3 separate regions of the Homo sapiens genome follow, and all the other regions are linked to region 1. Evidence: fine-mapped expression QTL. A gene starts in region 1. Each other region holds a variant in brackets. All regions are shown on one strand. Distances are between the middles of the regions. Region 1 holds the start of ZNF418 (zinc finger protein 418). Region 2 holds the start of LOC124904804 (small nucleolar RNA U3). Region 3 has its middle 6.7 kb from the start of ZNF552.

What was found.
Region 2: its variant is fine-mapped to the expression of ZNF418 in cerebral cortex (GTEx, PIP 0.94).
Region 3: its variant is fine-mapped to the expression of ZNF418 in whole blood (TOPMed, PIP above 0.99).

What each region holds. Positions count from the first base shown.
Region 1 is chr19:57,934,325-57,937,089 of GRCh38, forward strand. ZNF418 (zinc finger protein 418) reads right to left here and starts at 1,078. Exons shown (of 6, transcript NM_133460.3): 1 at 837-1,078. RefSeq lists enhancers at 481-1,363, 956-1,045.
Region 2 is chr19:57,133,004-57,135,768 of GRCh38, forward strand. It overlaps ZIM3 (zinc finger imprinted 3), which reads right to left. Exons shown (of 5, transcript NM_052882.1): 5 at 1,093-2,765. The coding sequence ends at 1,915. It overlaps LOC124904804 (small nucleolar RNA U3), which reads right to left and starts at 1,257; the gene lies at 1,046-1,257. The variant T/C (reference allele first, on the strand shown) is at 1,459.
Region 3 is chr19:57,820,249-57,823,013 of GRCh38, forward strand. No RefSeq gene overlaps it. Among named protein-coding and RNA genes, the nearest start is that of ZNF552, 6.7 kb to the left of the region's middle. RefSeq lists an enhancer at 1,917-2,417. The variant T/C (reference allele first, on the strand shown) is at 1,597.

The DNA.
Region 1 (2,765 bases):
CTGCCTTAGCCTCTGAGTAGCTGGGATTACAGTCATGCGGCATCACCACGCCTGGCTAATTTTGTATTTTTGTTAGAGACGGGGTTTCTCCATGTTGGTCAGGCTGGTCTCGAACTCCCGACCTCAGGTGATCCGCCCGCCTCGGCCTCCCAAAGTGCTGGGATTACAGGTGGGAGCCACCTTGCCCGACCCCCTCAGTGGGTTCTTTACGTGCTTTTGTAGCCAGGAGTGTCTGAGGGGAAAGCAGACGTTACAAAGGGGATCTGATAAGCTCAGGTCTCCTTGAACCTTTTCTTATCGCTGGAGCCAGGTGACCTCAGACTGGTTGACCTGCGTGTCTCAGTGCAAAATGTCATCTCTACCACCTATGTGATCTATCAACAAAGGAGTCAACCTCCCAGAACCCTAAGGTCCTCATCTCCTCTACTATGTTCTTCCTTTGGCCTTTGGGAAACCTTAAAAGCCTGGACTTGGATCGCATCCCTCCTTTCTTCGAAACTCTCCATGGCTTCTAGCGTCTTCACAGCGAATACACAGCCCCCAGCCTGCTCTTCCAGGAGAAGCTTCGCCTCACACGTTGTTCCCTACAGGCGCCTGTGGACCCCAGGTTCCATCCTCCCGGGTCTGTCCTCCAGGCCATAGCCCGCGCCGGTCCCTGTGCCTGTCGCTCTCCCCACCGCATCCCACAGGTGTCAGAAACAAGGACCTCTCCCGCGAACGCCTCAGTGTCCCGACGCCGGGTCCGGGCTGCAGACCTGTGAACAGTCGCCGCTCTCTCGCTGCTTCAGGATTCGGGTTAGGATGAGGTGACCTGAGGGCAGGGAAGGCACAATTACCTGAGCCGGGAGCCTCAGCGCGGCCGCCGCCATCCCGAGTACGCGGGGAAAGCACTGCCGGGAGCGGCGGGCGCCGTTACGGGGCCTAAGATCTGCCTCTGTGCAGCAAGAAGGACTCTTCACCTTCTGGGTTCAGACACCGCGGTTCGGACCCATAGCTCCAGCGCCTCTCACCTCACAAACCGCAGAAACACACCCAACATTAACCAAAATGGTCGCTACCAGAGAACGCTGAGAATCCCGCCACTACGTTACGTGCGCACACAGAAACGCCTTTATTCTGAGCCCTTACTGGTTCTGTTGCGCTGTCATTCAATGTAGAGCTTTCTGGGTAATGTAGTTCCCCAGGTTCCAAGGTAGTAAAGCTGCCGCTTCCCAAAGGCGCTTCTGCAGGGAAGTCCCAGCCCTACCTCAGGGGGTTCATTAAAGCGCGTACCCTTTTAGGGCAGAGGATGGTCTCGCCCCTCCTTAGAGGCCATATTGAGATTCCTGGGGAATCCCTGTTTGTAACTGACCACCTAAGTGTTTGCAAAAATATTAATTCACATTTCTGTAAATTCAAGCTCCCAGGCGCTAAAAATACTGTGAAGGCCCCCAAAGGCTACAAATCCAAATTCGTGTATCACTTTATACAATCGTTTAGACACAGAATGCTTGCACTGGAAGCAGAGGCTGATAAACATTACTCTGTTATAATTCACATGAATGCACTCTTGTTACCGGATAGAATGTCTTGGCTGTGAGTTGTCCAGTTGTTGGCGCATTGAACAAAGAAGTGAACAAAACACACAAAAAAAGCAACGAAAGAACGGACCAATGAAAGCGCAGATTTATTGAGGGGAAAGTACACTCCACAGAAGTGGAATGTAGGTGTGGGAGCAGGCGACCAAGCGGCTCAAGAACCCCGATTACAATGTTTTTTAGGGTTTTATTAGGTTGGTGCAAAAGTAATTGCGGTTTTTGCCATGAATAAGCTAGAATTTTATAATACCCCAAGAGTTCTTTAAAGGCCTCCAATCCTATGAAGGACTGGTGCACAACCAATCAGAGGCTGAAGTGGAGACTTCTGTCTTGTTACCACAGGAGTGAGGACGTGGCCTGTGTGCTGCCTCATCTTGCCTAGAACTAGCTGCACCTGCTGTTCTTTTGCTTATGCCTTCATTCTTGGTTACCCTAATTCCCTATTCTCCTGCCTCACTCTGAGGCATTAGAGTTGGTTTTTCAGTCTGCCAGGGACAAAAGAGAACTAATCCAGATAGGACCATGCCAAGGAAGATAGAGGAGAGGCTAAAGAAAGAGTACAAAGGTCAATCAGTCGTTCCCATGGAAAAACAACTCTCCTGCTTATATAGTCAATTATTGTGTCCAATTCATTCAGCAAAACATTTATTCATGTAATATCCCTTACTTGGTATTCTAACTTATATTTTCAACTCATTTTAGGAACTTGAAGTCAGTCTCAGGTAAAGAACAATGAAAGAGAAATCTCAGCTTGGTATTGGTAATGGTGGTGATAATCTCCACCTGGAGACACTAGGCGTATGTTAAATTATCGAGCTTGTTATCTTTCCTGGGAAGTGATTATCATTTGTTTCTCTTGTGACAGCGGGGAGTGTTCTGCATGAGGAACTAATATGATACCAGAAAAACAGGTGAAATGCCAGTTACAGAAACTTATTACCAACGACTATCTAATAACTGCGATGACAGAAATAGGTCAATTGAAACATGAGTGGATGGTGAAAAAAATTTACACTTCACAGAAGTTTTTCTTTCTTTTTTTTTTTTTTTTTTTTTGAGACAAAGTCTCGTTCTGTCCCAGACTGGAGTGCAGTGGCGCCATCTTGGCTCACTGCAACCTCCACCTCCCGGGTTCAAGCGATTCTCCTGCCTCAGTCTCCCAAGTAGCTGGGATAACAGATGCCTGCC
Region 2 (2,765 bases), 800 kb before region 1:
GACACAGAAAGAAAGCAGGGGGTGAGTACTTTTCCTTTGTAAAGTTATTAAAATAATAACCCAACCCATACATATACCATTGGCTAGCTTCCACATGTGTTTATGACTGGTGACTAGTAAAATTTGCTATGCAGCAATCAACTGTTATTTACCATTTTCCAGGAATTTCAGGGCATAACATTAGGGTTATATGCAAAATGCAGTATACTAAATATCCGTGTGATTTTGTGAATTCAAAAGCACTGCAAGATGTTGCTCATGTTATTAATATGAATAAGACGATAAACCCATCCTCATAAATGTACAACATTTCCTGGTGGCCAAGCCTTAAACAGCTTATAATGTACCCAGTATCAGTGGGTGATGTGTTAGACTGTGAATTCAGCAAGGAGTAAAGAACGATTTTTTTAAATGGCCATGTGAGTAGACAAATGGAAATTGAGAGGATTTTTTGGGTAAAAAGAGATAAGAGCCTGGTATTATATAAGGAATGGGGCAAAATTAGGCAGAGTAGGTGTGGGAAAGAAGAGAAGAGCAACCAGAAACATACGTACGAGGTTTTTAAAAATACATTATTTTTAGCATTTAAGAGGAAAAGAAGGAAAGTACTATGAAAAAAGAAATGTAGGCCGGTCACAGCGGCTCACGCCTGTAATCCCAGCACTTTAGGAGGCCAAGGCAGGCGGATCACAAGGTCAGGAAATCGAGAACATCTTGGCCAACATGGTGAAACCCCGTCTCTACTAAAAATACAAAAATGAGCCAGGCGTGGTGGTGCATGCCTGTCGTCCTAGCTACTACTTTGGAGGCTGAGGCAGGAGAATCACCTGAACCAGGGAGGCGGAGATTGCAGTGAGCTGAGATCACACCACCGTACTCCAGCCTGGGTGACAAGAGTAAAACTCTGTCTCCAAAAAAAGAAAAAGAAAAGAAAGAAACGAGGCTGAGTGCCATGGCTCATGCCTGTAATCAAAGCACTTTGGGAGCCTGAGGTGGAAGGATTGCCTGAGCCCAAGAGTTTGAGGCTGCAGTGAGCTATGACTACACCACTGCCCTCCAGCCTGGGCAACAGGTGACACCCTATCTCAAAAGGAAAAACAAAAAAGGCAAATGGCAATTGCAGTGAAGAAATGCCAAGATACCTTCATGCTCAGGAGAGAAAGCTGTACTTCCTGGATGTGGTTTCCAGTCCCCTACACCTCTAGAGAAACCTCTCCACTCATGAATTATAGAAATCATCCCTAAAAGTATAAAGTGCTGTCTTATTTGTTTATTTTATTTTATCTTATTTTTGAGATGAAATTTTGCTCTTGTTGCCCAGGCAGGAGTGCAATGGTGCAATATTGGCTCACTGCAACCTCTACCTCCCAGGTTCAAGCAATTCTCCTGCCTCAGCCTCCCGGGTAGCTGGGATTACAGGTGCCCACAACTATGCCTGGCTAATTTTTGTATTTTTGG[T/C]AGAGACAGGGTTTCACCATGTTGGTCATGCTGGTCTCGAACTCCTGACCTCAGGTGATGCGCCCACCTCAGCCTCCCAAAGTACTGGGATTACAGGCATTTGAGCCACCACGCCTGGCCAAAAGTATAGTCTTTTAAACGTTTTTAAAGATATGGATACCACTGGTCATTATTCACTGGAATAAAACTCCATCAGGGTTTTAGCACATTTGGTTTATTGCTACATCTTCAGTGTTTAAGAGTTCCTGGTACACAAAAGGCATCTAATAAATATTTATACTTAATAAACATTTGCTGAGTGAGTATGCCGAATGGGTTTTCAAAGGATACTGTGATAATAAGTCCTCGCTACCTTCAAAAATAGCCTCCAAATTAGAGGCCATTTCAACATGGAATTCTGGGGTGACAATTCCAGGCAACCATATCTTCCCATGTTTTTTTAAGTGCATGGGGCTCCTATCTGGAGTGAATTCTTTTCTGGTGCCTAACAAGGTATGACCTGTCAGCGAAGGCTTTACCGCATTCAGAACATCCATAAGGTTTTTGTCCAGTATGGGTTTTTTTATGCAAACTAAGGTTTAATTTCCGGATGAAGGTTTTTCCACATTCACTACATCTATAGGTCCTCTCTCCGCTATGAGTTTTCTGATGGCTATGAAGGTTTGACTTCTGAAAGAAGGCTTTTCCACATCTGTTACATTCATAGGGCTTTTCCCCAGTATGGATTTTTTTATGTTGAATGAGGTTTTTCTTCTGGATAAAGGTATTTCCACATAGATCACACTCATAAGCTCTCTTCCCAGTGTGAATTTTCTCATGATCGATGACATTGGATTTCTGGGAAAAGGCCTTCTCACATATGCTACATTTATAGGGTTTCTCTCCCGTGTGTATTCTCTGGTGTTTCACAAGATCTGACTTGTAAATGAAAGCCTTTCCACAGTCCGTACATTGAAAGGGTTTTTGTCCAGTGTGAACTTTTTTATGTTGAATGAGGGTTGAGTTCTGCCTGAAGGATTTCTCACATTCATTACACTGATAGGATTTCTTGGCATTATGAATTTTCTCATGATTAATGCAGGATGATTTCCAGGAAAAGGCTTTTCCACATGTCTTACACTGATAGGGTTTCTCTTTAGTATGCATTTTCTGATGTTGAAAGAGATTTGACTTCTGCTTGTAGGCATTTCCACAGTTCTCACATTTATAGGGCCTTTCCTCTGCGTGAGTTTTCTGATGTTTATCAAGCTTCCACTTCTCCCCGAATGCTCTTCCACAGCTATGACATTCAAAGGGTTTTTGACAGG
Region 3 (2,765 bases), 110 kb before region 1:
AGTTTTCAAAGTTAATTTGGCGGGTAGGGGCTTGGGAAGTGGGGAGTGCTGAACGGTCAGGTTGGAGATGGATTTATAGAGGGTTGAAGTGAGTTTTTCATGCTGTTTTCTGTTGTGGGTGGGATGGCAGAACTGATTGACCCAGATTACCGGTCTGTGTGTTGTCAGCTGATCCATCCAGTGTAGGATCTCCAAAATACCTCAAGCACTGATCTTAGCTTTTACAATTGTTATGTTATCTTCAGGAGCAACTTGGCGAGGTTCAGACTCTTGGAGCCAGAAGCTACATGACCCCTAAACGGTAATTTCTAATCTTATAGCTAAACTGTTAGTCCTGCAAAGGCAGGCTGGTCCCCAGGCAAGAAGGGAGTCTTTTCAGGAAAGGGCTGTTATCAATTTTGTTTCAGAGTGAAACCATGAACTGAATTCCTTCCCTAAGTTAATTCAGCCTGTGCCCAGGAATGAACAAGGACAGCTTAAAGGTTAAAAGCAAGATGGAGTCGGTTAGGTCTGATTTCTTTCACTGTCATAATTTCCTCAGTTATAATTTTGCAAAGACGGTTTCACCTGTGTTTGACATCAGTGCGATGCGGTGGGGAGAGCAACAGGCACAGGGAGGGGCCTAGGCGATGGTCTGGAGATGGAGGCAGCTGGGAGGATGGAACCTGGGGTCCACAGGCACCTGTCGGGAACAAAGTTTGAGGCAGAGCTACTCCTGGAAGAGCACACAGGCTGAGGGCTGTGCATTCATCATGAGGACACTAGAAGCCATGGAGAGTTTTGAAGAAAGGAGGGACATGATCCAAATCCAGGCTTTTAAGATTTCCCAAAGGCCAATCAAAGGAAGAACATTGTAGAGAGAGAGGATGAGGACTTTGGGGCCTTGGGAGGTTGAATCCTTTTTGTAGCTCACATAGGTGGTAGAGATGACATTTTGCACTGAGACAAGCAGGTCAGACAACCAGCCTGAGTGCCACCTGGCTCCAGGGACAAGAAAGGGTTCAGGGAGGCCTGAGCTTATCAAATCCCGTGACATGTTTGTAATGTCTGCCTCTCCCCTCAGGCACTCCTGGCTGCAGAAGCACTTAGGGAACCCACACAGGAAAGTGGAGGGTGTTCAATCCCCTCATTGGTCCTGACGCCATCTACAGGTTCTCTAGCTTGTGGTGTCCTGGGACTCTTAAGTGCCATTTTTTTCAGTCCTTTGATCCGAGGACCCTGGAGAATCTCTGAAGCCAGGATACCAAGTCCATGACAGGTTATATGGAGGTATTCCCATTTCTGTCAACCAATGTAAACACCCTTGTAAGATTAACCCAGGATTTGCTACCAGGTTGTGAAATGCTTAGAGATAAAACGGATCAAAGTCAGGAGGTGATATTACCACAGTTCTACCTGGCTACAGGCTTCATCTGGTTGGACCTTGTTGCATAGACTGTGGGTTGAGGGAAGAGGAAGAAAGGTCAGAGATAAGGCTCCTGCCATAATCTAGGTGAGGCTTAATGGATCAGATATGTGGTAAATCACATGGGTCTGGATTCAGGATTCACTTTTTGTAAAAAGACAGCTAGGTTTTCTTTCTTTCTTTCTTTCTTT[T/C]TTTTTGAGACGCAGTTTCGGTCTTGTCACCCAGGCTGGAGTGCAATGGCATGATCTCTGCTCACTGGAACCTCCGCCTCCCGGGTTCAAGTGATTCTCTTGCCTCAGCCTTCCGAGCAGTTGGGATTCCAGGCATGAACCACCACACTTGGCTAATTTTTGTATTTTTAGTAGAGACGAGGTTTCACCATGTCGGCCAGGCTGGTCTCGAACTCCTGACCTCAGGTGATTCACCTGCCTCGGCCTCCCAAAGTGCTGGGATTACAGGCATGAGACACCGTACCTGGCAGACAGCTAGGTTTTCTCTCTCTCTCTTTTTTTTTTTTTTTTGAGACGGAGTTTGCTTTTGTTGCCCAGGCTGGAGTGCAATGGCGTGATCTCAGCTCACCGCAACTTCCGTCACCCAGGTTCAAGTGATTCTCCTGCCTCAGCCTCCCCAGTAGCTGGGATTACAGGCATGCACCACCACCCTGGCTAATTTTGTATTTTTAGTAGAGATGGGGTTTCTCCATGTTGGTTAGGCTGGTCTTGAACTCCCGACCTCAGGTGATCCGCACGCCTCAGCCTCCCAAAGTGCTGGGATTACAGGTGTGAGCCACCGTGCCCGGCCGACAGCTAGGTTTTCTAATGTGGGTGATAAGAGCATGAAAGAGGAATTGGGCATGAGCCCAAGGTTTTTGATCTTTGCAGCTGTAACCATGGACGCTGCATCTGCTGACATGAAGTTGGTATTGACAACAATATTCACTGTGGATAGCAAGAGGGTTGTTTTGGCCATATGAAGAATCAGAGACCAATAAGTGGTGGCATCAAATGGATAACTAGACATACAGGATGGGATATCTGGGAGGGTGTTGATAATGGAGACATCCAATATATGAAAGCTAATGAGCGAACTACAGTAAGTTAGTTATGGGTCCATTTAGGAGGACATGCTTCAGATTTTGGTGGTAAATCTTTTCAGGGGCCAGGAAGGTGTGACTACAGGCTGAGGAGTGGATCTCTTACTTACGTCCCTGAGTGATGTTATTGGGCTTCCTAAACACCTGAGAGGGTGTGAGTGACCATCATGGCAGGATGTATCAGACAGTAGAGTTTGGAAGGGGACATAGACATCCGAGGAGAGAATAGACGAGATAGATGCATGCAGAAGCATAGGAGTAATTCAG